7 linked regions of the Homo sapiens genome follow. The protein of the gene in region 3 purifies or fractionates together with the protein of the main gene of each other region. This does not show direct contact. Each region holds a gene or a part of one and is shown on either strand. Other genes may lie near its edges. The genes, in order: TALDO1, TGFB1, ACVRL1, PTPRD, CASP14, INHBA and TSC22D1.

The links.
Region 1: the proteins of ACVRL1 (region 3) and TALDO1 purify together in Homo sapiens (affinity purification with mass spectrometry, with the first as the bait; one large-scale study listed by BioGRID). This does not show direct contact.
Region 2: the proteins of ACVRL1 (region 3) and TGFB1 purify together in Homo sapiens (affinity purification with western blotting, with the first as the bait; 2 studies listed by BioGRID). This does not show direct contact.
Region 4: the proteins of ACVRL1 (region 3) and PTPRD purify together in Homo sapiens (affinity purification with mass spectrometry, with the first as the bait; one large-scale study listed by BioGRID). This does not show direct contact.
Region 5: the proteins of ACVRL1 (region 3) and CASP14 purify together in Homo sapiens (affinity purification with mass spectrometry, with the first as the bait; one large-scale study listed by BioGRID). This does not show direct contact.
Region 6: the proteins of ACVRL1 (region 3) and INHBA purify together in Homo sapiens (affinity purification with western blotting, with the first as the bait; one study listed by BioGRID). This does not show direct contact.
Region 7: the proteins of ACVRL1 (region 3) and TSC22D1 purify together in Homo sapiens (affinity purification with western blotting, with the first as the bait; one study listed by BioGRID). This does not show direct contact.

What each region holds. Positions count from the first base shown.
Region 1 is NC_000011.10:753,964-757,463, forward strand, and holds part of TALDO1 (transaldolase), read left to right. Parts: intron 1-1,915; coding exon 1,916-2,039; intron 2,040-3,500. UniProt on the Homo sapiens protein: Catalyzes the rate-limiting step of the non-oxidative phase in the pentose phosphate pathway. Catalyzes the reversible conversion of sedheptulose-7-phosphate and D-glyceraldehyde 3-phosphate into erythrose-4-phosphate and beta-D-fructose 6-phosphate.
Region 2 is NC_000019.10:41,333,423-41,336,922, reverse strand, and holds part of TGFB1 (transforming growth factor beta-1 proprotein preproprotein), read left to right. Parts: intron 1-3,500. UniProt on the Homo sapiens protein: Transforming growth factor beta-1 proprotein: Precursor of the Latency-associated peptide (LAP) and Transforming growth factor beta-1 (TGF-beta-1) chains, which constitute the regulatory and active subunit of TGF-beta-1, respectively.
Region 3 is NC_000012.12:51,917,504-51,920,682, forward strand, and holds part of ACVRL1 (activin receptor type-1-like isoform 1 precursor), read left to right. Parts: intron 1-39; coding exon of another isoform or gene 40-195; intron 196-1,481; coding exon 1,482-1,612; coding exon of another isoform or gene 1,613-1,720; exon of another isoform or gene 1,721-2,484; intron 2,485-3,179. UniProt on the Homo sapiens protein: Type I receptor for TGF-beta family ligands BMP9/GDF2 and BMP10 and important regulator of normal blood vessel development. On ligand binding, forms a receptor complex consisting of two type II and two type I transmembrane serine/threonine kinases.
Region 4 is NC_000009.12:8,317,503-8,321,002, reverse strand, and holds part of PTPRD (receptor-type tyrosine-protein phosphatase delta isoform 1 precursor), read left to right. Parts: intron 1-1,036; coding exon 1,037-1,172; intron 1,173-3,060; coding exon 3,061-3,129; 3' UTR 3,130-3,500.
Region 5 is NC_000019.10:15,048,309-15,052,279, forward strand, and holds the start of CASP14 (caspase-14 precursor), read left to right. Parts: upstream 1-1,171; 5' UTR 1,172-1,337; intron 1,338-3,897; 5' UTR 3,898-3,943; coding exon 3,944-3,970; intron 3,971-3,971. UniProt on the Homo sapiens protein: Non-apoptotic caspase involved in epidermal differentiation. Is the predominant caspase in epidermal stratum corneum. Seems to play a role in keratinocyte differentiation and is required for cornification.
Region 6 is NC_000007.14:41,689,591-41,693,090, reverse strand, and holds part of INHBA (inhibin beta A chain preproprotein), read left to right. Parts: intron 1-2,548; coding exon 2,549-3,441; 3' UTR 3,442-3,500. UniProt on the Homo sapiens protein: Inhibins/activins are involved in regulating a number of diverse functions such as hypothalamic and pituitary hormone secretion, gonadal hormone secretion, germ cell development and maturation, erythroid differentiation, insulin secretion, nerve cell survival, embryonic axial development or bone growth, depending on their subunit composition.
Region 7 is NC_000013.11:44,566,331-44,569,830, forward strand, and holds part of TSC22D1 (TSC22 domain family protein 1), read right to left. Parts: intron 1-3,500. UniProt on the Homo sapiens protein: Transcriptional repressor. Acts on the C-type natriuretic peptide (CNP) promoter. Acts to promote CASP3-mediated apoptosis.

The sequences.
Region 1 (3,500 bases), on a different chromosome or scaffold from region 3:
TTGGTTACTCTGAAGAAAAAAACTTTTTTATTTTTTTTTGCAACAGAGTCTTGCTCCATTGCCCAGGCTGTAGTGCAGTGGCACAATCTCGGCTCACTGCAACCTCCACCTCCCGGGTCCAAGTGATTTTCCTGCCACAGCCTCCCGAGTAGCTGGGATTATAGGCATGCACCACCACGCCTGGCTAATTTTTATATTTTTAGTAGGGACAGGGTTTCGCCGTGTTAGCCAGGCTGGTCTCGAACTCCTGACCTCAAGTGATCCACCCCCGTTGGCCTCCCAAAGTGCTGGGATTACAGGTGTGAGCCACTGTGCCCAGCCACTGAGTAGCATTTTATGACTGGGTTGATTAAAGCAGAGAATGTCAGCTTTATAAAAGGGACCACCAGTACAATTTGAACAAAAACTTGGGACATTGTCAAAGTTGTCCACTCCGACTAAAAGGATTCTTAGGTCAGGTTTTGTCAAGTTACCTGCAGAAGCTACTGAATGCGATATTTATTTATTTGTTTGCTTATTTATTTATGAAACAGAGTCTCACTCTGTCACCCAGGCTGGAGTGCAGTGGTGCAATCTCAGCTCATTGCAACCTCCACCTCCTGGGTTCAAGCGATTCTCTTGCCTCAGCCTCCTGAGTAGCTGGGATTACGGGCATGTGTCACCACACCCAGCTCATTTTTGTATTTTTAGTAGAGACTGGGTTTCACCATTTTGGCCAGGCTGGTTTCAAACTCCTGACCTCAGGCGATCCACCAGCCTCAGCCTCCCAAAATGCTGGGATTACAGGCATGAGCCACTGCACCCGGCCTGAATTTATTTTTTTAAGAGATAGGGTCTTGCTCTCTGGCCCAGGTGGGAGTGTAGTGGCATGATCATGGCTCACTGCAGTCTCAACCTCCTGGGCTCAAGCGATCCTCCTGCCTCAGCCTCTTGAGTAGCTGACGCTACAGGCATGCACTACCACACCTGGCTAATTTAGTCTTTCTATGAAACCTAAAAAGAATGATTGGTGAGTGATAGCAGTGGATAAAATTAGTCTTAAAGTTGCAGCAGTGCGGTTCAGCAACTATTAGATAAACTGGTTTCAGGTTAGAGGCCGCTTCAGCAACTAGGCTTGCAGGTAATAATTTTTGGAGCAATGCTGTGTGTCCTGAGTGCTTTTCCCCTTGGCCTTTTTTTTTTTTTTTTTTTTTTTTTTTGAGATGGAGTCTCACTCTGTCACCCATGCTGGAGTGCAGTGGCGCGATCTCGGCTCACTGCAAGCTCCGCCTACTGGATTCAAGCCATTCTCCTGCCTCAGCCTCCCGAGTAGCTGGGACTACAGGTGCCGACCACCACACCCAGCTAGTTTTTTGTATTTTTAGTAGAGACGGGGTTTCACCGTGTTAGCCAGGATGGTCTTGATCTCCTGACCTCGTGATCCACCCGCTTCAGCCTCCCAAAGTGCTGGGATTACAGGCGTGGGCCGCCGCGCCCAGCTCCCCTTGGCTTCTTGACTCTGTTGCAGCTGGGTATGGTGATAATGACCCAGTCCATAAGATCAGCGTTCACATGTGGCTCATGACTAGACCGCGCGCCTCCTTGTGGTGGTACGGCAGTGGGATGCACATTTTCCTTTGACCAGCGTTCTCCCAGCTGTCGCACCGCTCACTCCCATGCTGTTACAGGTCACCTCTTGCAGGGGCATATTTGATCGCTGGGCACTTAGTGTTTGTTGTTCCATCATTATGCAAACAGCCGCCTCTTGATGAACCTTCAGTGACCCAGAAGAAGGTGTGAGAAGTGTGGCTGGACCCCGCTTTCGGAAATGCTCTGGACTCCCCTAACGTCCTGGGGAATTACAGGGTTCCTTCACATGTTTCCAGTTGGAAGCAAGTACTCCACTTACTTTGGCTTTTGAAAACTATTTCCCTAGCCATCGACGAGTACAAGCCCCAGGATGCTACCACCAACCCGTCCCTGATCCTGGCCGCAGCACAGATGCCCGCTTACCAGGAGCTGGTGGAGGAGGCGATTGCCTATGGCCGGAAGCTGGGCGGGTGAGTGCCTGGACTCGGGAGGGTCCCAGCTAGGCCCTCGTGCTAGTCTAGTTGGCCTTGCTTCCCTCCCTAACTGAATTTTAGTTCTCAAACACCATGAACTCAAGGGGGGAAAAAAACCCTATCTTTTTGCCTATTTTTGTTTATTGAAGTGTAATCTGCATGAAGTAACCTGCACCTGTGGTAAATGAGCAGTTCAGAGAGTTTTGCCAATGTGTGTACCCTGTAAATACCACCCCAGTCAAGATGCAGAGCACTTGCAGACCCCCACAGGCCCCTCCTCCCCTCCTGTAGTCAGTCTCCCCAGCTCTGGTAACACTTACCTTCTGGCTGTCATTTTATTTTTTACTTTTCAGACGGAGTCTCGCTGTGTCACCCAGGCTGGAGTATAGTGGAGCAATCTTGGCTCACTACAACTTCCGCCTCCCTGGTGCAAGCAATTCTCCTGCCTCAGCTTCCCAATTAGCTGGGCTTACAGGTGTGTGCCACCACTCCTGGCTCATTTTTGTATTTTTTTTTTTTTTTTTTTTGAGACAGAGTTTTGCTTTTGTTGTCCAGGCTGGAGTGCACTGGCACAATCTCGGCTCACCGCAACCTCTGCCTCCCAGATTCAAGCGATTCTCCTGCCTCAGCCTGCCGAGCAGCTGGGATTACAGGCATGCGCCATCACACCTGGCTATAATTTTTGTATTTTTGGTGGAGACAGGGTTTCACCATGTTGGCCAGGCCGGTCTCGAACTTCTTACCTCAAGTGATCCACCTGCCTTGGCCTCCCACAGTGCTCGGATTACAGACGTGAGCCACCGTGCCTGGCTTTTTAATTTTTTAATAGCTTTTATAACTCCCAGAATGTTCTCTGGTACCTGTTTGCAGTAGCTCCCCACTCCCTTACCCAACCAAGCAACTGTAGAGCCCTCTTCATGCCTGTGGCTTTGCATATTTTAGATGTCATTTTAGATTCTCTTCAGGGTAATAATTCAAAGCTTGAAGATGGTGCCGAGCAGGCAACGTGGGCACCACACAGGAGCAGGTCCCTCTCTGGTACTGGCTTTGCTTAGGTCCAGGTGGCTGGTGAGTGGCTCCCCTGACCATGTTGTGACAGCCACTCTGGACACTGAGTCTGACCCTCTCCTCTCTCTTCTTAGCTCCCTTTTCCTCATCTCGTGGTGTTGCACCCCTGTGGCATCAGTGAGGCCTTGGTGCTCCTGTTATTGGGTGACATTGGTGCCTTTGCTTGGCTGGGTGATCAACAGATGAGCCCTGCACCCATGTCCAGATGGCCCCAAATTTTTTTTTTTTTTTTTTTTTGAGATAGAGTTTGGCTCTGTCACCTAGGCTGGAGTGCAGTGTCACAATCTCAGCTCACTGCAGCCTCTACATCCTAGGCTCAAGCCAGCCTCCCACCTCAGCCTCCCAAGTAGCTGGGACTACAGGTGCACGCCACCACACCTGGCTAATATT
Region 2 (3,500 bases), on a different chromosome or scaffold from region 3:
GTAGACCTTACTTGAATCCTTATTTACACAGGCTTAAAAAAAAAAGATATTTATGAGACAGTTGGGTAAATGTGAACTCTGTCTAGATATTCCTCTAGATATCAAGGAATTGTTAATTTTCTTACATGGTATTGTGACTGTGTTTTAAAGTAGTCTTAATTAGAGATACATTTGAAATATTTATGGATGAAGCAACACGGTGGATTGCATGTGCTTTGAGATAAACCATTGTCGGCTGGCTGCAGTGGCTCACAGCTATAATCCCACCACTTTGGGAGGCCAAGGCAGGAGGATTGCTTGAGCCTAAGAGTTGGAGACCAGCCTGGGCAATATGGTGAAACCCCATCTCCCAAAAAAAAAAATATGAAAAGTAGCTGGGCCTGGTGGTGTGTACCTTTTGTCCCAGCTACTCAGGAGGCTGAGGTGGGAGGTTGGCTTGAGCCCCAGGAGCTGGAGGCCACAGTGAGCTGTGATTGCACCACTGCACTCCAGCCTGGGTGACAGAGTGAGATCCTGTCTCAAAAAAAAAAAAAAAAGAGATAGTGGATAGGGGTAGAGATGCAATGGAAATTGGCCATGAGTTGGTCATTGTTGAAGCTGCTTTTGTGTACATCTGAAACTTTCCAGCTGGACGCGGTGGCTCACACCTGTAATCCCAGCACTTTGGAAGGCTGAGGCGGGTGGATCACATGAGGTCAGGAGTTCGAGACCAGCCTGTCCAACATGGTGAAACCCTGTCTCTACTAAAAATACAGAAAAATTAGCTGGGTATGGTGGTGTGTGCCTGTAATCCCAGCTACTTGGGAGGCTGAGCCAGGAGAATTGCTTGAACTTGGGACATGGAGGTTGCAGTGAGCCAAGATTGCACCACTGCACTCCAGCCTGGGGCAACAGAGCAAGACTCCATCTCAAAAAAAAAAAAAAAAAACTTTCATAGGAAAATTTGTTCTTAAGGCAGCTCGAACACTACCTCCTTCCTAACCCCTTTCTCCAACATCCAAGATGGATGTGAGGCCTCTGGGCTCCCCTGGGGCCCTAAGTAGATCTTTGACTCAACAAACAGTCTCTGTTGGGTCTTTTATTTATAAAAAGTTTTGTAGCGACAGGGTCTCACTATGCTCCCCAGGCTGGTCTTAAACTCCTTGGGCTCAAGCGATTCACCGGTCTTGGCTTCCCAAAGTGCTGAGATTACAGGCGTGAGTCACTGCACCTGGCCTAGGTCTTGAGAGACTGGACGGAAGAGGCTTGGCAAGGGCAAGGGCTGTGGGTATCCCAAGGCCCGGTGCAGGGTAGGCCCCGAATGTGTGCTGAAAAAATGAGTCAGAGGATCACCTAGACGGCTTGTTCAACACGGACTGTTGTTCCCAGTCCTGCACACAATTTCTGATTTCAGTGGCCTGGGGTGCCACCTGAGAATCTGCATTTCCCATAGTTCCCAGGTGATGCTGCCGCTGGTCCTGGGAGCTCACGTGGAGAGCTGCTGACTTGGATAACAGTATCACAGATTGTTCAAATCCTAGGATCTCAGAACCCCAGCTAGGGTTGAACTGCATATTAAAGATGATTCTGAGCCGGGTGCGGTGGCTCATGCCTGTAATCCCAGCACTTTGGGAGGCCGAGGTGGGTGGGTCACCTGAGGTCAGGAGTTTGAGACCAGCCTGACCAACATGGTGAAACCCAGCCTCTACTAAAAATACAAAAAATTAGCCAGGCATGGTGGCACATGCCTGTAATCCCAGGTACTTGAGAGGCTGAGGCAGGAGAATTGCTTGAACCCGGGAGACGGAGGTTGCAGTGAGCTGAGATCACACCATCGCACTCCAGCCTGGGCAACAGGAGGGAAACTCCATCTCAAAAAAAAAAAAAGATTCCGGACACTAGTTCTTCCCCTTTTGTGAGTTCAGAACTTCCTGTGAGAAAGTGAAAGCCAGGACTCTTTTTCCCAGAAATACATGCATACATACACACATGTGCATATGATCTCAGGCACTCATGGCCCTCCCTAAGCCTGCCCATGATGGCCCCTTGGCCCTCAGCTTAACACCTTATTTTATCTAGTAGCTCCTACCTCTGAACAGATGAGGAAACTGAGGTCCAACCAAATTGGGTGGTACGGGCTGAGTTCACAGGGATCTCAGTTTCTTGACTTCCTTCTCAGGCTTCTGTGGCTCTTGGAAAGGCTTTATCTTGCCTCTAGGTTATCCGGTGCCACTTGAAGTTGGGTTCAAGCGATTCTCCTGCCTCAGACTCCCCAGTAGCTGGGATTACAGGTGCCCGCCACCAGGTCCAGCTAATTTTTGAATTTTTAGTAAAGACAGGGTCCTCAAGTCTGCCTGCCCTAGCCTCCCAAAGTGCCGGGATGACAGGCGTGAGCCACCGTGCCTGGCTGGCCCCACCAATCTATGAGCAGAGGTTGCAGTGAGCCAAGATTGCACCACTGCACTCCAGCCTGGGTGACGGAGCAAGACTCTGTCTCAAAAAAAAAAAAAAAAAAAAAAGGCATTGTCAACTTTTTCTTTTCTTTTCTTTCTTTTTTCTTTTCTTTTCAAGACAGAGTCTCACCCTGTTGCCCTGGGTGGAGTGCAGTGGCACGATCTTGGCTCACTGCAACCTCTGCTTCTTGGGTTCAAGCAGATTCTTGTGCCTCAGCCTCCTGAGTAGCTGGGATTACAGACAAGCACCGCCACACCCAGCTAATTTTTGTATTTTTAGTAGAGACGGGGTTTCGCCATGTTGGTCAGGCTGGTCTCAATCTCCTGATCTCAGGTGATCCACCCGCCTTGGCCTCCCAAAGTGCTGGGATTACAGGCGTGAGCCACTGCACCCGGCCTCTTTGACAGTTCTAAGAAGTAAAATAAACCAGAAGAAGGCAGGCAGAGAGTAATAGATATTGGGAACTGTTATTTTTCCTATTCTGATTTAAATTCCTTTATTATGGAAAATTTCAAATGTATACAAAAGCAATGAAGATAATGAATGCCCGTAAACTCTCATCCAGCGTCATCGGTAATTAAGATTTTGCCCCATTTCAAATGCAGACATTTTTATATTTTCTTGCATAACTGCAATACCGTATTGCACTAAATGGAACTAACAGTCACTTGGATATTTTGGAAAGGATGGCTCAGAAAGGTATCTCTGAGGAGGTGATGTTCAGTCATGTAACTGATATTTACTAGTACCTACTGCATTCCAGACACTGCTTTAGGAGTTAAGGGTCCCTGAGTGAAGGACATTTGAGCTAAGGTTTAAATGAAGTGAAGGGGCCAGGTGTGGTGGCTCATGCCAGTAATCCCAATGCTTTGGGAGGCCGAGGCGTGCGGATCGTTTGAGCCCAAGTTCGACACCAGCCTCAGCAACATAGTGAGACCGTGTCTCTAAAAAGAATAACAAATTAAAAAGAATAAATAGGCCAGATGCAGTGGCTCAGGTCTGTAATACCAGCACTTTGGGAGGCTGAGGTGGGCGGATCACAAGGTCAGGAGTTCGAGACCAGCCTG
Region 3 (3,179 bases):
GACTTCCAGGAGTCGTGACAGGTTGGGGACAATCCTCAGGATATGGCTGGAGCCCTGCTTCTTGGGGACAAGGATGTCCTCATTTCCTGAGCATCTACCAGGAGCCAGCCCCATGCCAGACTTCATTTGTCCTCGGTGGTCATCAACTGAAAACAGAGGCTGTGGTGTCACCGGTCCCTTGGGGAGACTCACGAGGTGCTTAGATTCCTCAAGACTCCGGGCATGAATTGCCAGAGTGGGCTCTAAGGAGACCGGGATCGGGGGAAAGAGGAACCTGGAAGAAGCCAAGGCTCCTTGGACCAGGCTGCAGGGCAGAAAGGAAAGGCTGGGAGGAGGCTGCCTGGGGTGGAGGGGGAAGCTCCATCAGCCCCACACGGACTCGCGGCGCATTATAAACACTGTAATCTGGTGTCAGCCCCGGCACTGATTAAAGGCCCATTAGACACATTCAGGCCTCTGTGCAGCACTGATTAGGGCGTGAGCGGCACAGGGGCCGGCCTGGAAGCTGGCCATGGGGAGAACAGCTGGCGAAGGCTCTATCGAGGTTGCGGCCTGTGTGGCCATGGCCCCCAGCCTCAGGCTGGGAAACAGGATGGGGCACGGGGCTGTCTGCGGCTCCACCGGCATTGTTTTCAGAAAGCTCCTACTAAAAACTGTGAACTTGGGATACCAAGAGGAGGGGGTCAGTGCTGGCTGCAGGAGTCAGCAGAGGCCTGTGCCATCCCTGACACTGGGTGATGTTATGTGGACCTGGGTAAAAAGATAAGTGCAGCTCAGAGGTCAAGAGCACATGCTTTGGTGTTAGACTGTGGGCTTAAATCCTAGCCCTGTCACTTACTATCTGTTGATCTTAGACAAGTTTCTTAAACTCTCTGGCCTTCATTTCTTGGCTTATAAAGTGGAGCTCATAGTATTACCTACCTCATAGGGCTGCTGTGAGGATTTCATGCAGAGCTCTTAGGACAGCACCTGGCATACAGTGCTCAGTAAACATTTGGTGTTATTATTATCAGGCATGTGTGATAGTTGGGGCCTGGGAGCAGTCCCGGGCACTGGGTGGAAGGCAGCTGAGGGAAGACTGGAACAAGGCTGGCCTAGGAATCCGAGATGGGTTTGAGTCTTGCCTCTGCCATTACTAGCTGTGGAACCTTGGGCCCCCCTTCTCTGAGCATCAGTTTCTTCATCTGTAAAATGGAGGTAATACTAGTACCCACCCCACAGGGCTGTTGTGAGGACAAACAGGATAAAGCATGTAAAGTGTTTACAGCAGAATATCTGGCACATGCCATGTGCAAAACAAATGGCAGTCATTAACATTAGTTAGAAACACATTTATTGCATTATACTGTCCCTCTCAGGGGTAGCGTGTCCAGGCCACTGGTTTCTGGCCCTTGGATAGAGGGTAGAAAAGGCTCTCCTCTGGGTGGTATTGGGCCTCCTTAGAGTCCCAAGTGATTGTCCTGTCCATTCTCCATTTCCAGGCATCGTGGAGGACTATAGACCACCCTTCTATGATGTGGTGCCCAATGACCCCAGCTTTGAGGACATGAAGAAGGTGGTGTGTGTGGATCAGCAGACCCCCACCATCCCTAACCGGCTGGCTGCAGACCCGGTGAGGCCTCTGCTGGGACTAGGATGGCGTGGGGTGGTGGCTCATGGCTGGGATTTCTGGGCCCAGGAACTTGTGTCTGAGGCCTCTGCTTCATCTCATAGATACTGAGTGTCCTGGTTAGGGCACCTCTCTAGGTACTCCCTCTTTCAACCCTGGCCCATGCTCCCTGCCCCCAGGGCCATCTGGTCATTCTGGGATTTTAAGAACCTTCACCTTCCCTGTGAAAAGTCAGAGGCTATCTGTGGCTCTGTGTGTGTGTGTGTGTGTGTGTGTGTGTGTGTGTGTGTGTTTGAGAGTCAGGGTTTTGTTTGCTCTTGTCACCCAGGCTGGGGTGCAGTGGCACAGTCATAGCTCACTGTAACCTCAAACTCCTCGGCTCAACTGATCCTACTGCCTCAGCCTCCCCAGTAGCTAGGTGTAGTGCACACCACCACACCTGGCTAATTTTTAAAATTTTTTGTAGAGACAAGGTCTTTTATGTTGCTCAGGCTTATCTCAAACTCTTGGGCTCAAGTGATCCTCCTGCCTCAGCCTCCCAAAGTGTTGGGATTATAGGTGTGAGCCTCCACACCTGACCACTGTGGTATTTTTGTTGCTATTTGTCTTTGTTTGTTGCTGTTTTGTTGTTGTTTGTCCTTGTTTTTTCTCAAAACACTTCACTTGTACAAAGACACACACACGTATATCAACACATACAAGCGTGAATATCCTTCTGAACATACACTCACAGAAATATACACATGCGCATATATGCCAGACTGTTGGCCCCGTGAGGACAAAGAACGTGTCTTTTGCTCACCCTTATGTCCCTATTACCTATCATAGTATCTGGCTCACAATAGGTGCTAATAAATATTTACTGAAAGAATGAATATATTCTATACATGTATACATCTATGTGTACATAGACATACATTTCTGTACAACATATCCGCAAAAAGCCACATGTATGCATTCCTGTACACACACACATACACTCACTTTCAGGAGCCAGAAGTGGGGCCAGCTCATTTCAGGCCCTGGGATGGGTTGATGAGCTTCCTGGGATGGGTTGATGAGCTTTTTGGGATGGGTTGCTCCCTGGACACTTGCATTTTTAGGGCAGTTCCCACTTCCACAGTCCCCTGGGCCCAGCCATGGCTGATGGAGGGGCTGGAAGACACTGCCCTCTGCACTGGGGTCTTAGGCTGTGGATGGGGATGTGGGAGCCCCCAGGCTTGAAGAATCGGCCCCTTCCTATGGATCTTGGCAAAGGTGGGGATGGGGGTAAGGTGTTTCACAGACACTGCTTGCCCAAGGGGGCTTGAGTGCTCCTGAAGATCTGAGTTCTCTCTTTCTGTCCGCCCTGTCTTTCTCCATCCCTTTCTCACTCTACTCTCTTCCTCTTCCATTTTTTATTTTTTTGTCATCCTCTGTTCTCTCTCTCACCACTTGTCTTTCCTCTCGCTCTCCTTTCCAATGCTCTCATCTCCCTCCTCTCATCCTTTCTCTCCTGCTTATGTCTCCCCATTACCGGCCATCCTCCTCATCTTCTTCCCATCTTCTCTGACCCACCTCCCTCTGCATC
Region 4 (3,500 bases), on a different chromosome or scaffold from region 3:
ATTTATATATGCCTGTCAGCTACACCCTCCAGTAAATGAATCCATCTATTTTCTACAGCCCGTGCCCAAGTGTTACACATGCTGTTTAATTAGGATCCAAAAATGCAGGGATTTTTCAGATTATTCACTGTTTCCCTCATTATCTGAACTTCCCATTGCTTTCCTCCTTAAGTGCACAAGAGCTATGAATTAATTTTCTTTCTTGCTACCGTGAAGATTCTGGAGTTATCTTAAAACAATGAAGACAACAGAGAGAAACTCAAAACCTTTCTAATGTGGTTTTAGTTGCTGATCATGTAAAAATGGTAGCTAAGTTCAGAGATCAATGGCTCTTAACCATTTTTTTTTAAGATTAGAGACCCCTGTGAGAATCTGTTGAAAGTTCTAAGTCTCAAGAAATAAGAAAACAACATAGTATTTACTTCATGTGTACGTACACTTACAGGATAGTCATAAACCCTCCTGAAGACTAAGTGAAAATCACGTATATACCCTGTTATACCATCTCTTTTCTCATAATAAAACCAGTGTAAACATTTGACTAGTTATAGGCAAATACATTTAGGTTATGGGCATCGCATATGTATTTTAAGTAACTGCAAAATGTGAACAGTGTGATAGAAAAGTTGAAGATGCCAAATTCACTTCACCTTATTCTGAATTATTTCATACTTTAAAAATATTAAGTAGGCAGGTTGTAAATTTCAGAATCTCCATGAATATTATAAACCTATATGTTATTTACCCTTTCTTTTCATTTGTTATGTTTCCTTGGTCTTTCTAAAATGGTATAAATCCCCATTGAAAAGACCTTTTATTAGACTTACTCCTAATTACTTCATCCTCATTATCACATGCTGTTACAACTCAGTATCCCAAGAGTAATCATTTGATGAATGTGATACCATGTTTTCCTGAATATGGCTATAAAGAGATACGGAGTGTGGAAGCTGGTAGAAGTATGTCCACACCCAAGCAAATGTGGCCAAGACTGTGAACATCTCACCCAGTAACATCGCCTTTGTTATTGTGGCAGCGCGGGCGTTGGAAGAACTGGAGTCTTCATAACGCTAAGCATTGTTTTGGAAAGAATGAGATATGAAGGAGTTGTAGATATCTTCCAGACTGTCAAAATGTTAAGAACACAACGACCAGCTATGGTACAGACAGAGGTGAGAAAATCCATTGCATTTTTCGCATCTCAAGAGCCTACGTTTTGCTAGCCTGGACCTCCCGGACTCCATACTCTCTCAACACCAGACACAAAATACTGTGGGGAAAGCATCAAACTGTTTAATAATTTTGAACCTCATTTTCCCCCTTTTTAAATGGGATGAGATTATTAGTGTCTTAGTGTTGCTATAGAAATTATGTGAGATTATATGTTAGATTGAGCTATGTTAAATTTTACTACTGGACCATTTTTGACCAATAAAATGGCAATTTCATAAAATTCGTTATATTCATAGTCCTATAATATAAATATATAAATATATAGAAAGCATAATATTTAGTACATAATATAATCTCAGCCCATTTAACTTCTCCATTCTCCCTCTGTATGCCTACAGAGGTATCAGCTCTTCTATATTTCATGTCTTAACAATGGCCATTCAAAACATTTTGATTCTGGATAAGCCTAGAGATATTAATATTAGCCCCTCATTTCCTATTCCAATAATTAATATGGAAATTTGGATATTTCTCGTAATAATAAGAGTTTATGATATAGCCAGTCTGGTCTATTGAGCATTCATTTCTAAAGATAATATTACTGATAGAGTTTATGTTCTGCAAAAGGCCACCAAATTATACAACTTATATGTGTTCCTCAATTCATCATCCACAGTATCTTTCAGACGGATTTCAAAGTAGTGCAAGTGTTTGGCTTGCAATAGTCAAAACATTATGCCAGCTTGACAAACTTAATGGGTCTTAGGGGTTACAGAGGGAAATTGGACATTTAAAAAGCCTTAACACTCAGCCAAGCAACTTACTGTGACAAGATAGGAAAGTAAACACCATTTATTTTGCATTACCAACCATTTTTATTACAGAAAAATGCACATTTAAGCAAAATAGAAACTATCTGTCTACTTTCAGCCCGATTGGCCACTGAAAATAGGTTTCTTTTATGGGGAAAATCCTTTTCCTCATCCCTATAGAGAGCTGTAAATTGTGATTTTTCCATCTCTCCAACAATGCTTCAATTTATTCCAATATGATAGTGTTCTTCGTTGTCTGAAAAAGGCCATGCTTCATACTGCTTTTTTTTAGTGTGTGCCTCTCTAAAACAGACAACTAGCAATCACACAGAATTGGGCTGAATTTACAGGTATTTTTTGATGTGGGCAGCCAGTCCTGTGAAGCCATTTTCAGGGATGGAAAGCTTGGAAGTCCAGTGCCCTGTGTAAATGGATTTGTGTGCCTGGTGTGCCGCACCAGCTACCTTCTGGCTGTATATGAACATCATATGTAAGTGAGAGAGACAGCCAAAGGGTAGCTGAAATGACTGTGAGTGATTCTCACTGCAAGCTCTACTGTCCAAACATAATTTTTTAAAAATTCAAATTCTGTTGGCAGTAGTTCAGAAGATAAGTAAATTCAGATTTTTCTCAGGACAGTTTGTGTCTGTATCAGCCTCTCTTAAATATTTAAACTGAGAATTAGTTATCTTGAATAAGCAGATAATTGTAAAGGATGATTTTCATCATTATCTGCTTATAAGGCATGTAAGAAGTTTATGTGTTCAATTGGTGGTAATGGTTTGATACTACTTGGAAAACACTTGTCTGGGAAGGTAATGTTCACTCGACCTGCCACTGCTTGGAATTGGGAGATCGTTTTAGTCAAATTGATTGGCAAAGTTAATCAACACCCCATGTGGCTTTTTCTTTGTTCACTATAAACAATTGGTCATTGGATTAGACCAGTTGACGAAAGTAGTGATTTTGCCCCTATATAGATGTTATTTTGTTATGCAATATTGATTTTTATTTTTCTATTAAAATATGCTCATGGTCCCTTCTTTTGCTTCTCCCCATTCATTGTCTCCTGCAGGATCAATATCAGTTTTCCTATCGTGCCGCACTAGAGTACCTGGGCAGCTTTGACCACTATGCAACGTAGAAACCCCTGACCCATTCTGGATTTTTACTACAGGCCCTTCAATATCCATGGAGTCTCTTCTGAGCCATACAGGGCACTTGAGAAGTCCTTCTTAACTTCTAGCTAACAACTACTTAGTGGGACTATTACACACAAAACAAATTAAAAACAAATTATTCCAGGTGGACCAAGAATTCACAGTTTAATAATCTAACCTGAAAAATAATGAAGAGAATCCTGACTGATGAGGCATCTGAAGGATTTTATTTACAGATACCTCAAGGATTCAAAATCAAGGGAAGAAGAAATCACAGCAAAGAACCACCATCTTATTCAGGATTGCTTGAAAGGTGCAAGGAGAAATTGCCAGAATGCTGCAGTTCAGCACAAGA
Region 5 (3,971 bases), on a different chromosome or scaffold from region 3:
CACATAGGTGCAGTTGAAGGGTCAGTGATCTCCACTGGCTTAAACTAAACAAGAGCTGCCTCCTACCTAGTTCCTGAAAAACAACTTTAAGCACCCATTACTATAGTGTCCCACAGACAAAAATGTTATCTGTAAGGAAGCCAGTGGGAGTTTAGTTATGCATTATTTGGCTACGTGACTTGCTAGTGGCGCTTTTAAGATCAACTATAAGTAAGCAATTAAAAGTAAGTAAGCAATTAAACGCAAGGCAGATTAAGTCTGGAGGGCTTAATCAGGTTCGCCTTTGGTTTCACTATTAACATAAGAAATAAAATGAAACAAAATGGCTGAAAAATAATAAGAGGAGGAGGAAGAGAGGAATCATCATGATGCATCAGTTAAGGCAACTGGGCTGGAACATTTTAGGGGTTGTTTGTTTGTTTTTATATTTAAGACAGAGTCTTGCTCTGTCACCCAGGCTGGAGTGCAGAGGCACAATCTTAGCTCGCTGCAGCCTCAAACTCCTAGGCTCAAGCCAGCCTCCTACCTCAGCCTCCTGAGTAGCTAGGACTATAGGTATATGCCATCATTTTTATTATTATTATTATTTTAGTGACAGGGTCTCACTATGCCCCGGCTGGTCTCAAACTCCTCACCTCAAGCGATCCTCCTGCCTTGGCCTCCCAAAGCGCTGGGACTACAGACGTGACCCACCACACCTCACCCCTTATAGGGTTGAATGCCAACTGTGCCAATTGCTGACCTTGGGCAGTCATTTCACCTCTATGAGCCTCAGTTTCTCCATCTGCAAAATGGGAGCAAAAATACTGATCTGTCTAGACTCTTGAAGACTCGATGAGATAATAACTAAGTGAAGTCGGTGTTATCTACACAGTGGAAGGTGAGATGAATAAACTAGGCATAATGATGATGGTAATAACCAGATGGGCTGGCTATGGGATGGGGGTTGGGAGAGGTTGTGGCTGGGCTGGCACAGACATCTGACTCATTTAGACTCTCTGCCTAGGCCACCTTTGCCAGAGGGAGTCCCCTCAGCCTTGCGATCACTCATCCCATTGGCGTTGGCTCCATTTCCACACCACAGCTGTGTGCCAAGGGTGTGTCATGAGGTTTCTTGAGTGACAGAAAACTCACCGACAATAAAGGGCCAGGTGATTGTGCCACCCGATTCATAGACCAGGCTTCTCAGGAGAAACCCCGGGAGATTCCACACTGTCAGCCCCTTCTCCAAGATCAGTACGTGGGCCTGACTCCTCCTCGGTGCCCAGCTCAGTATTGGCAACTAGGAGAGTAGTGAGATTGAACTTGGCCTTGAGGAACAGCTGCCTCTAGAGTTGGTAAGTGATTTGGTGGATATTAGCCTCTCTCTCTCTCTCTCTCTCTCTCTCTCACACACACACACACACACACACACACACACACACGCACATACACACATACGCTCCCTCTCCCTTCATGAATTAATGCTCTGGCCAGTTTTGGCAGAATGGAAGAAATTTCCATCCATCCCCTCTTTCTTTTCATCTGTTCATTTTTTTCTTATTTGTTTACTCAGCAAATTCTCTCCAACACCACCTCTGTGCTCCCTGCCACACTGTTGGCCATGATGGAGACAGAGATAATGAAGTCAGGCTTTCAGTCCTGAAAACTGAGCTGCCAGTTCAGCCATGAGAGTAAGAATCAAAAACACTGCTGTAATTCAAGTAGGAGCAAGCAGAGCTGTGAGAGTCCAGAGAAGGAAGAGGAAAGTTCCAGGAGGTCAAGAGGGATCCTAAAACCTACCTGGGTCACCATTGCTGTTAAGCACCTAGAGCTCTCCCCAGGTCCTTTGCGGATGGGAAAATCGAGTCTCAGAGAGGAGAGTGAGATGCCGAAGGTCACACAGCTGGGAAGGGACTGAGGCAGGATTCGGTTCTGGCTCCAGGGCTATGCTCCTTCCACTTCCTCCCTCACAATCTTTGGCTCCTCTTTCGTCACAGCACTTGCTGTGTGTGTGTGTGAGTGTGTGTGTGTGAGAGAGAGAGAGAGAGAGAGAGATTTAATATTCATTTCTGTCACAGACTAGAGCTACAGAAGGACAGAAAGTCAGGGAGCATGTCTGTCTTACTTAATGGATTCTAAGTGCATAACACATAATAGATACCCAGAAAATATTTGCTGGGTAGGTGGGTGGGTGGGTGGATGGATTGATGGATGGATGGATGGATGGGTGGGTGGGTAGATGGATAAGTAAATAGGTGGATGGATAGATGGAAGATAGAGATGATGGATGAAGGAATGGATAGAAGGAGGGCTAGATGGAGGGATAGTTGGAAGATAGAATAGATGGAGGGATGGAAGACAGAGAGAGATAATGGATGAATGGATGGATGGATGGATGAATGAATGAGTGGTTGGATGAATAAGTGGATGGATAGATAGATGGATGGGTAGATAAATGGGTTGATGGAAGAATGAATGGGTATATGGGATGACTGATTAATAGATGGGTAGACAGACGGATGAATAGATGTGTGAGTGGGTGGATGGATGGATGGATGAGTGGATAGATAGGTAAGTGGAAAGATAAATTGGTGGATGGGTTGATGAATAAAAGGATGGATGTTAAATTGGATTGATGGATGACTAGATAGATGTGCGGGTGGAAGGATGGGTGGATGGGATGACTGATTAATAGATAAGTAGATGGACAGATGAATAGATGGAAGGGTGAGTGGGTGAATGGATGGATAGATGATGAATTAATGGATAGATGGTAGATGGATAGATGAATGAATTGATGGGTGACTGGATAGATAGATGGATAAAAACATAGATGAATGGATGGTTGATGGGGGAAGGCATAGCAGATATTATGCCACCAAAATTGTCAGAGAAGGATCTAGATAGAAAAAAAAAAAGCATTCCCGGTGGGGTGCAGTGGCTCACATCTATAATCCCAGCACTTTGGGAGGCTGAGGTGGGCAGATCATGAGGTCAGGAGATCAAGACCATCCTGGCTAACACAGTGAAATCCCGTCTCTACTAAAAATACAATAAAATTAGCCAGGCATGGTGGCGCATACCTGTAGTCCCAGCTACTCGGGAGGCTGAGGCAGGATCATCACTTGAACCCAGGAGGCAGAGGTTGCAGTGAGCCGAGATCATGCCACTGCACCCCAGACAGCCTGGGTGACAGAGTGAGATTCTGTCTCAAAAAAAAAAAAAAAAAAAGCAAAAAGCATTCCCTACTGAGGAGAAAGTGTAGGAAAAGGCAAAGAGATGGGGAAATGCCAAGAGTATGACAAAAGTCTGTCTGTGCAGCCAGAGAAGAGAACAGGACTCAGAGATGAGAATGGAGAATGTGGACAGACATTCAGACTCAAGGAAGAGCAAGGGAGGTGGATTGACCCCTTCGTATTGGAGACCCAGTGAGATAATATCAAAGTTGCATTCCCCACTTCGATGACATTCTCCTTTTAAACACTCCTCCAAGGCATCTCTTTGAGATGGCTTCCCCAGCCCGTCATCTCCTAGGTAGAAGAGGCAAACACATGGGTCACTTGCCCTGCTCCTCATTCCAGGGCTTTCAGGGGAAGTTCAGTCCACCAGAAGCTGGTGAATGACCCACGGGAGACACAGGAAGTTTTTGGGGGCGGAGTGGGGGACATTGTGGGGTAGGCTCAGCAGTTCTGAAGAAGACATCCAGAAATGGAAGACATCGTGAAATTGTCATTCTAGGGGTGATATATTACTACTTCATGGATTATCATCTATTGCCCAGATCTGTCCACAGACCAAATCCCCACCACTTGAGTGCTATTTGGTCTCAAAAATCCAGATACATAAGCCAGTTTGTCCCCTGAGCCCCTCGGCCTCCCTTTAGAGAACTTTAACCTATCTTCTCTTGACTCCAAGGATCAGACAAGGGTGCTGAGAGCCGGGACTCACAACCAAAGGAGAAATGAGCAATCCGCGGTCTTTGGAAGAGG
Region 6 (3,500 bases), on a different chromosome or scaffold from region 3:
TCCTGCATAGAGGCAGAAGGGAAAACAGCAGGTATCTTGTTAACATTCTCTATGGGGCAAGGCAGATGTGCCCAAGCTGGAGGAAACCTGCACACCCTCCAGGCTAGTTATCCAAGGCTTGGGAGGTTTCCCTCGGCCTTCTCCTAAGGCCTTGGCAGGACCCTGCCACCCTAAAATCAACTGCTGATTGCCTTTTTAGATTTAAATGATTAAGCTCTGCTTATGGGAATCTTCTTCTCTTTTATTTTGTTAAGAAACAAACAACAACAACAAAACCCACACCAATTCTTAGCAAAGGGGAATATCGAATTCAGATTTTGAAAAAATAAGTCATCATGCTTCCTAAAATAAGACAGCTTCTCCCTCTAACTGCTCTCTCTGCTCTGGTATTCTATCTAATCATAAACCCAGCTTTATTATTCATTTCAACTCCTGCCAAAGACATGAGGTCGGAGTCAGAGGAACTCCCCTTACCACCGCCACCATCATCATGGCCAGCATCCTCGTAAGTTTATAGAAAGATGCCAGAGAACCTTTCCTATCCATCTGCAGCCCTGCTTGGCCCTTGCCTCAGTGAATTTACCACTATCATAATCACAGTGTGCAGAGTGTGTTAAATTAAGAACAGAATCCACAGTACGCAATGCACAGAAAAGCCTGCCTTCTGCTGCAGAGAACTTGAAACTGTGCCTAAAATTTATAGTACCGTAAACATCTCAGGGCCTCGAGTGATAAGTATGGCTGGATTTCCGTTAACTATAGAAATCCAGGCAGGGAGATCCTCCCAGGGAGTTGCAAGTTCTAAGATGAACTTCTTGAAGATTGTTCCCAGATTTGTGCATGGGATACATGTACAGCAGACAGTTGTAAGGAGGTCCACGGTCATGGAAAAGAGGATATGTTTCTATATGCCACCAAGTGGGAAAAATGGAAGTGAGGGAAAATATTTGATTAATCAAAAAATTTTAGTTTGGATACCTGCTTTCATAGTAATTGTTGCTGTGTCATTAAACATACAGTTGCTTAGGAAAAGAGAAGGAAATAGGTGACTTTCTAATTTTAGAGTTAGGCTGGAACTGAGTGGTTGCTAAATTCAACTGCCCTGACAATGTGGGGATTTCCTGTCCATTAGCAGCGATTGCTATTTGACATATGTTTCTGGTGCCCATTAATCTGCCCTGTAATGGGTCAGAGGCAAAAATGGGGGATTCAGAGGTACTAGGTGGCTCTCTTAATTTAATAGAACTCAATGCTAAGGACGCCTCTATTTGTTAATAAGTAATCAAGTCATTGGCTACTTTCTGCTAAACACTAGACTATGATAGTGACCTTAGACCCCGGGCATTCTAAACCAGGCTGGCAGGAGGGTGGTGGTGGAGGTGATGTGAGGTAAGCCTCCTAGAGGAACTGTCATCCAAACAATCTGAAAATTGAAACATTATTAAAGGCAGCACTAAGGGTGGTATGTTGGAGTTGGGGCAGGAGCACTTAAGGCAGAAGGAACAGCAGGTGTCACTGCCTGCAGTTGAGAAAGGGGGTGGAATTCTCAAGGCCTTAGACCCCAGAGAACAGGACTGGGCAAGAGCTGACATTCAAGGGAGGAACAGCATGTACAGAGCCCAAAGTCCCAGCCACTTTCTGTTGGATACTGAGCAATAGGAATTCAGTAAAGGACTTTCAAGAAGAAGTGATGTGATCAGATCCACCTGTGGGAAAGATGCCTTTAGCTGCTTCATGGAGAAATGACTGGAGAGGAGGCCTTCCTTAGTGTTGCAGAGGCAAAGTAAAGAAAATGCTGCTGCAGTGACCCAGCAAAGAGGTGATGGCGGAGGAATCAGGCTGTGACAAGGGAAGAAGAGGCTGGCTCAAGTGTGTCTCGACTGCACAGACTTACACAGCGAGGTGGGGCCAGGGGCTGCATTTTTGTCTGAGAATAGTATTTCCTTAGCTTTCTAGAGCTTACAGTGTCTTTTTGTTTATGTTATCTCATTTGACCTTCCTAAACCTGTGAGATAACAGGTCAAATGTCCTTATGTCATTCCCATTTTTATAGAAGATGAAACTGAGGTTGAGCAATTAGTCAACAGACACAGACTCGCAGGCCCTCTTCATTCTAAAGCAAGGGTCCAAAACCTTTTTTCTATAAAGGGCCAGAGAGTAAATAATTTAGGCTTTGTGAGCCAGGCAGTCTGTTGCAGCTACGCAGTCCTTGGTTATTATAGTGCAAAAACAGCCATAGGCAGCATGTACAGAAATGAGCATAACCATGCTCCAACAAAACTTTATTTACAGGCACTAATGTTTAAATTTCAGGTAATTTTCACATGTCACAAAATATCACTTTTCTTTAACCACTTAAAAGTATAAAAGCCATTCTTAGTTTGCAGGCAGTACAGAAACAGTTTCAGCCCATGGGCTGTCATTTGTTGACCCCTATTCAAGAGGGTCTGTCACAGAAGACTCCTGCTTGCCTGAAATTTACGAGTGCATGTAAATGTTGGAATTAACAGGTGTGCCTGTTTTCTCTTATGCTGTCTTTCATCTTCAGGAACAGCCAGGAAGACGCTGCACTTCGAGATTTCCAAGGAAGGCAGTGACCTGTCAGTGGTGGAGCGTGCAGAAGTCTGGCTCTTCCTAAAAGTCCCCAAGGCCAACAGGACCAGGACCAAAGTCACCATCCGCCTCTTCCAGCAGCAGAAGCACCCGCAGGGCAGCTTGGACACAGGGGAAGAGGCCGAGGAAGTGGGCTTAAAGGGGGAGAGGAGTGAACTGTTGCTCTCTGAAAAAGTAGTAGACGCTCGGAAGAGCACCTGGCATGTCTTCCCTGTCTCCAGCAGCATCCAGCGGTTGCTGGACCAGGGCAAGAGCTCCCTGGACGTTCGGATTGCCTGTGAGCAGTGCCAGGAGAGTGGCGCCAGCTTGGTTCTCCTGGGCAAGAAGAAGAAGAAAGAAGAGGAGGGGGAAGGGAAAAAGAAGGGCGGAGGTGAAGGTGGGGCAGGAGCAGATGAGGAAAAGGAGCAGTCGCACAGACCTTTCCTCATGCTGCAGGCCCGGCAGTCTGAAGACCACCCTCATCGCCGGCGTCGGCGGGGCTTGGAGTGTGATGGCAAGGTCAACATCTGCTGTAAGAAACAGTTCTTTGTCAGTTTCAAGGACATCGGCTGGAATGACTGGATCATTGCTCCCTCTGGCTATCATGCCAACTACTGCGAGGGTGAGTGCCCGAGCCATATAGCAGGCACGTCCGGGTCCTCACTGTCCTTCCACTCAACAGTCATCAACCACTACCGCATGCGGGGCCATAGCCCCTTTGCCAACCTCAAATCGTGCTGTGTGCCCACCAAGCTGAGACCCATGTCCATGTTGTACTATGATGATGGTCAAAACATCATCAAAAAGGACATTCAGAACATGATCGTGGAGGAGTGTGGGTGCTCATAGAGTTGCCCAGCCCAGGGGGAAAGGGAGCAAGAGTTGTCCAGAGAAGACAGTGGCAAAAT
Region 7 (3,500 bases), on a different chromosome or scaffold from region 3:
GCAAGTTTCAGTTTATTCACCAATAAAATAGAAAAAAACTTAATTCACAAGATTACTGAGTGGTTAAATATGGTAGACATTAACTGAATCTAATACTAACATTTTTCATCACTTCTATGAACTGAAATTCTGAATTACATACTATTCTTATTTCTAACAAATATAAACTAAGTAATTCCACTCTTAAAATTTATGTATTCATTAGAGAACTAACTTGGAGCTATGACTTAATTAAAATTAGCATCATTCATTACATTTAATAGTACAGTATTCTACCATTGAAATAGATGTGTAATGATACTAAACACACACATCTATTTTTTCACTCCTTCCCTAAAACCCCACTAAAATGACAGAAAAGCAATTTGTTAAGATACAAAGACATAAGCCCACAAAAACTGAGGCAGATGAAAAGACAATAGCAAAAAAATTTGAAAGCTGGAAAGCAGACAGTTGAGTGACAAATGACTTAGCAAACACTAGAAAATCAAAGCTTTAGCAAACAATGGAGAATGCCAAAAACAAACCCAATTTAAACTGCAAAATCCCCAAAAGACTCAGGAATTGGCAGTACCACATCTATATAAGTGGGATGTGGGGGGAGAAGGTGCTAAAATTAAAAAGATTGTTTAGAAGTCAGTTTAAGAAGCAACCAGTCCTACAGATTCCCAACTGTCCCTCCCTAATCCCAAGAAAAAAAAAGGAATATTGTCTGAAGAAGGTAAAACATAGGATCACAGGACTAAGGAAATCAGGCACAGCAAAATGCAGAACATACTGAAAACAGGGTTGAGTGAAGAAACGTATCTGGGGATCCCCCAAAACCTTTCATTCCACATCCCCCTCACTGCCCACCCCACAGAATGCTTGTAGAAAGGCCTTCAATTCCAAGCAAGAAATCAGAAGAGCCTTCTTATAGGGATCTAACCAGCTAGGAGGATATACAAGAAGAAACCGACACTAGAAGTCCTCCAACCAAACACCACAGCCAGGTTACCATACAGGAAAGCTAACAATTGACAAGCCACGCTCAGAATTTCTAATTAGCATTTTAATTCCTTACTCTTACACATGACTACCAACTATCTGAGGAAAGGCTATAAGATGAAAGATAAAGACCAAAGCAAATAAAAAGTAAGAAAATAAAACCTAGAGGAAACACCACATAGAAAGAAAAAAAAAACTTTTTAAAAAAGCTAACATTTTATATATTCAGATAGCTAAGAAAAAATACTATCATTATTAAAATAGAATAGTATACTATTAAAAAGGAGCAAAAAAAAAGTTCTTGGAATTTAAATATGTGATAAGGGAAATGGAAACTCAATAGAGCAAAAAGAAAAACAGATGAAAAGTAGTTGAGAAAACACAAGAAAATTAGAAGACCAGTCAAGAAGGTCCGTTATCCAAATAAGAGGAGTTTAAGAGAGAAAAAATAGAAAGACATAATCAACAACCTGACTCAAGAAAAAGTCCCAGAATGAAAAGATGTTTCCAAACTGAAAGGGTTCACCAAGTACTCAGCACAGTGAATGAAAACAGACCCACACAAAAATCCATCATGGCAAAACTTCAGAACACTGGAAACATAAAATCTTATAAAGGTTTTAGAGGTTTTAAAAATGAGAGGAAGAAAAGGAAGAAGGAAAAGGAAGGGAAGGAAAAACAAAATACACAGGTCACATACAATATATAAGATATCAGAATGGCTTCAGATTTCTCAAAAGCAATATGGATGTTAGAAGGCAATGGCACAAAATATAAGAGAACATAACTTCCCCACCTGGTATTCTTTACCTAAGAAAGTGTCAGAGTAAACTAAAGCCATTTTAAAACAAGCAAACTAAGAATAAAGACACTAGTCTCTGGAAAATAAAGATCCAACACAAGACAAAGTGAAAGGAATCCCAGAATAATAGTTGTGTACCAAGCCAAGAAGGCAACCAGTCAAGAATGGAGGTCAGTGGGATATAACACTTCCTGAGAAAGATAAAATTGTTAACAATATCTGATATTGGAACATCCTAAGAGGCATCTGATGAAAAGTGGATTTAGTGATAAATATAGAGAAAACTAGGCAAAGAGGTAAAAAAAGACAATGAACTCCAGCCAGATTACTCTGCGGTAAAGTTAACAGTCAACAAGCCACACGGAAAAAGAATTTTTAAAAATAATTATATATATATAGTAGAGACAGGATCTTGCTATATTGCCCAAATTAATCTCAAACTCCTGGCCTCAAGCAATCCTCTCACCTTGGCCTCCCAAAGTGCTGGAATTATAGGCGTGAGCCACCATGGCCAGCCCCACACTGCAAATCTCTAATCAGCTCTTTAATCCTTTAACACTTATTTGCAAGCAGACAATCAAGACTTACCAGACATCTAAGGAAAGGTTCTACAGGAAAGGTAGAGCCCAAAACATACAAAAATGGGAAGAGGGTGGGGAAAGGAGGGGCAACTTGGAGAAAACAGACAGCGCTGACAGATGAAAACCTGGGAGTGGAGGAAAACCCATTTCTATAATAGACAGGTGGGGATGGAGCAGGGAAGCAGCCACAAAACACTGTACAGGATAGGAAAAGTAATATTTGACAAGAATACTGAATAATCAATATTGATAACTACTGGGAGGAAGGGTACTGGGAAAAAAGGAGACCAGGTAGGTATATGGTAACAACAAAATTAAATCTTCATTTTCTATCCAGGAAGTTAATACAGACAAAAAGAAATGAAAGGTGTATTTTATTTAACAAATACCTACATAGGGCATGTGAGTTAGACAAAGTTCTAGGGAATTTCCAAATTCATTTAATTCTTATATCAACCCAATGAGGTAACTACTATTGTCATCATTTTTTTAATGAGAAGATTGAACCATAAAGAGGATAAATAGCCCGATGTTACATAAAACTAGTAAATGACAAGAAAGATCAAATCTAGGCAATCTAACTCCACAGTCCATGCTCCTAACGAGCAGGCTATATTACATATCTAGTGGTAAGACAAGCAAGTTATTTAGAGACTGGGAGGTAAATACCACAATAATCATCTAAAAGAGGTGAAAGTGATTGTTTCTAGGAAAGGAAAACTGGAAAGTAAGGGTGCAGGAAGCTCTTCCATTTATTTCTTGGAAAACCATTTAAACTATCTTTAAACTGTGCATGTACATCTTGAAAAAAAAACTTTAAAAATTATAATTTCGTATTTTAGTTAACAAAGTATTTTAACTGATACTACTGCTATCCTGAGAAGCAGGCAAAATGAGTATTACTCCTATTTTATAGGTAACACACATGCGTCTTAAATATTTGAGGACCTACTATAAAACAGGCAATGTACTTTGCAGACATACATCAATTCACCTAAAAATGTTGATGAGAGATACAAAAAAGCAAGTCTTTTTATTCAGTTCTTTTCCATTTGTTGCATAAATTATATGATCCTGCATCTCTCACAATTGTGCTTAAGATGAGGGACAATATAAACTTTAAATCATGA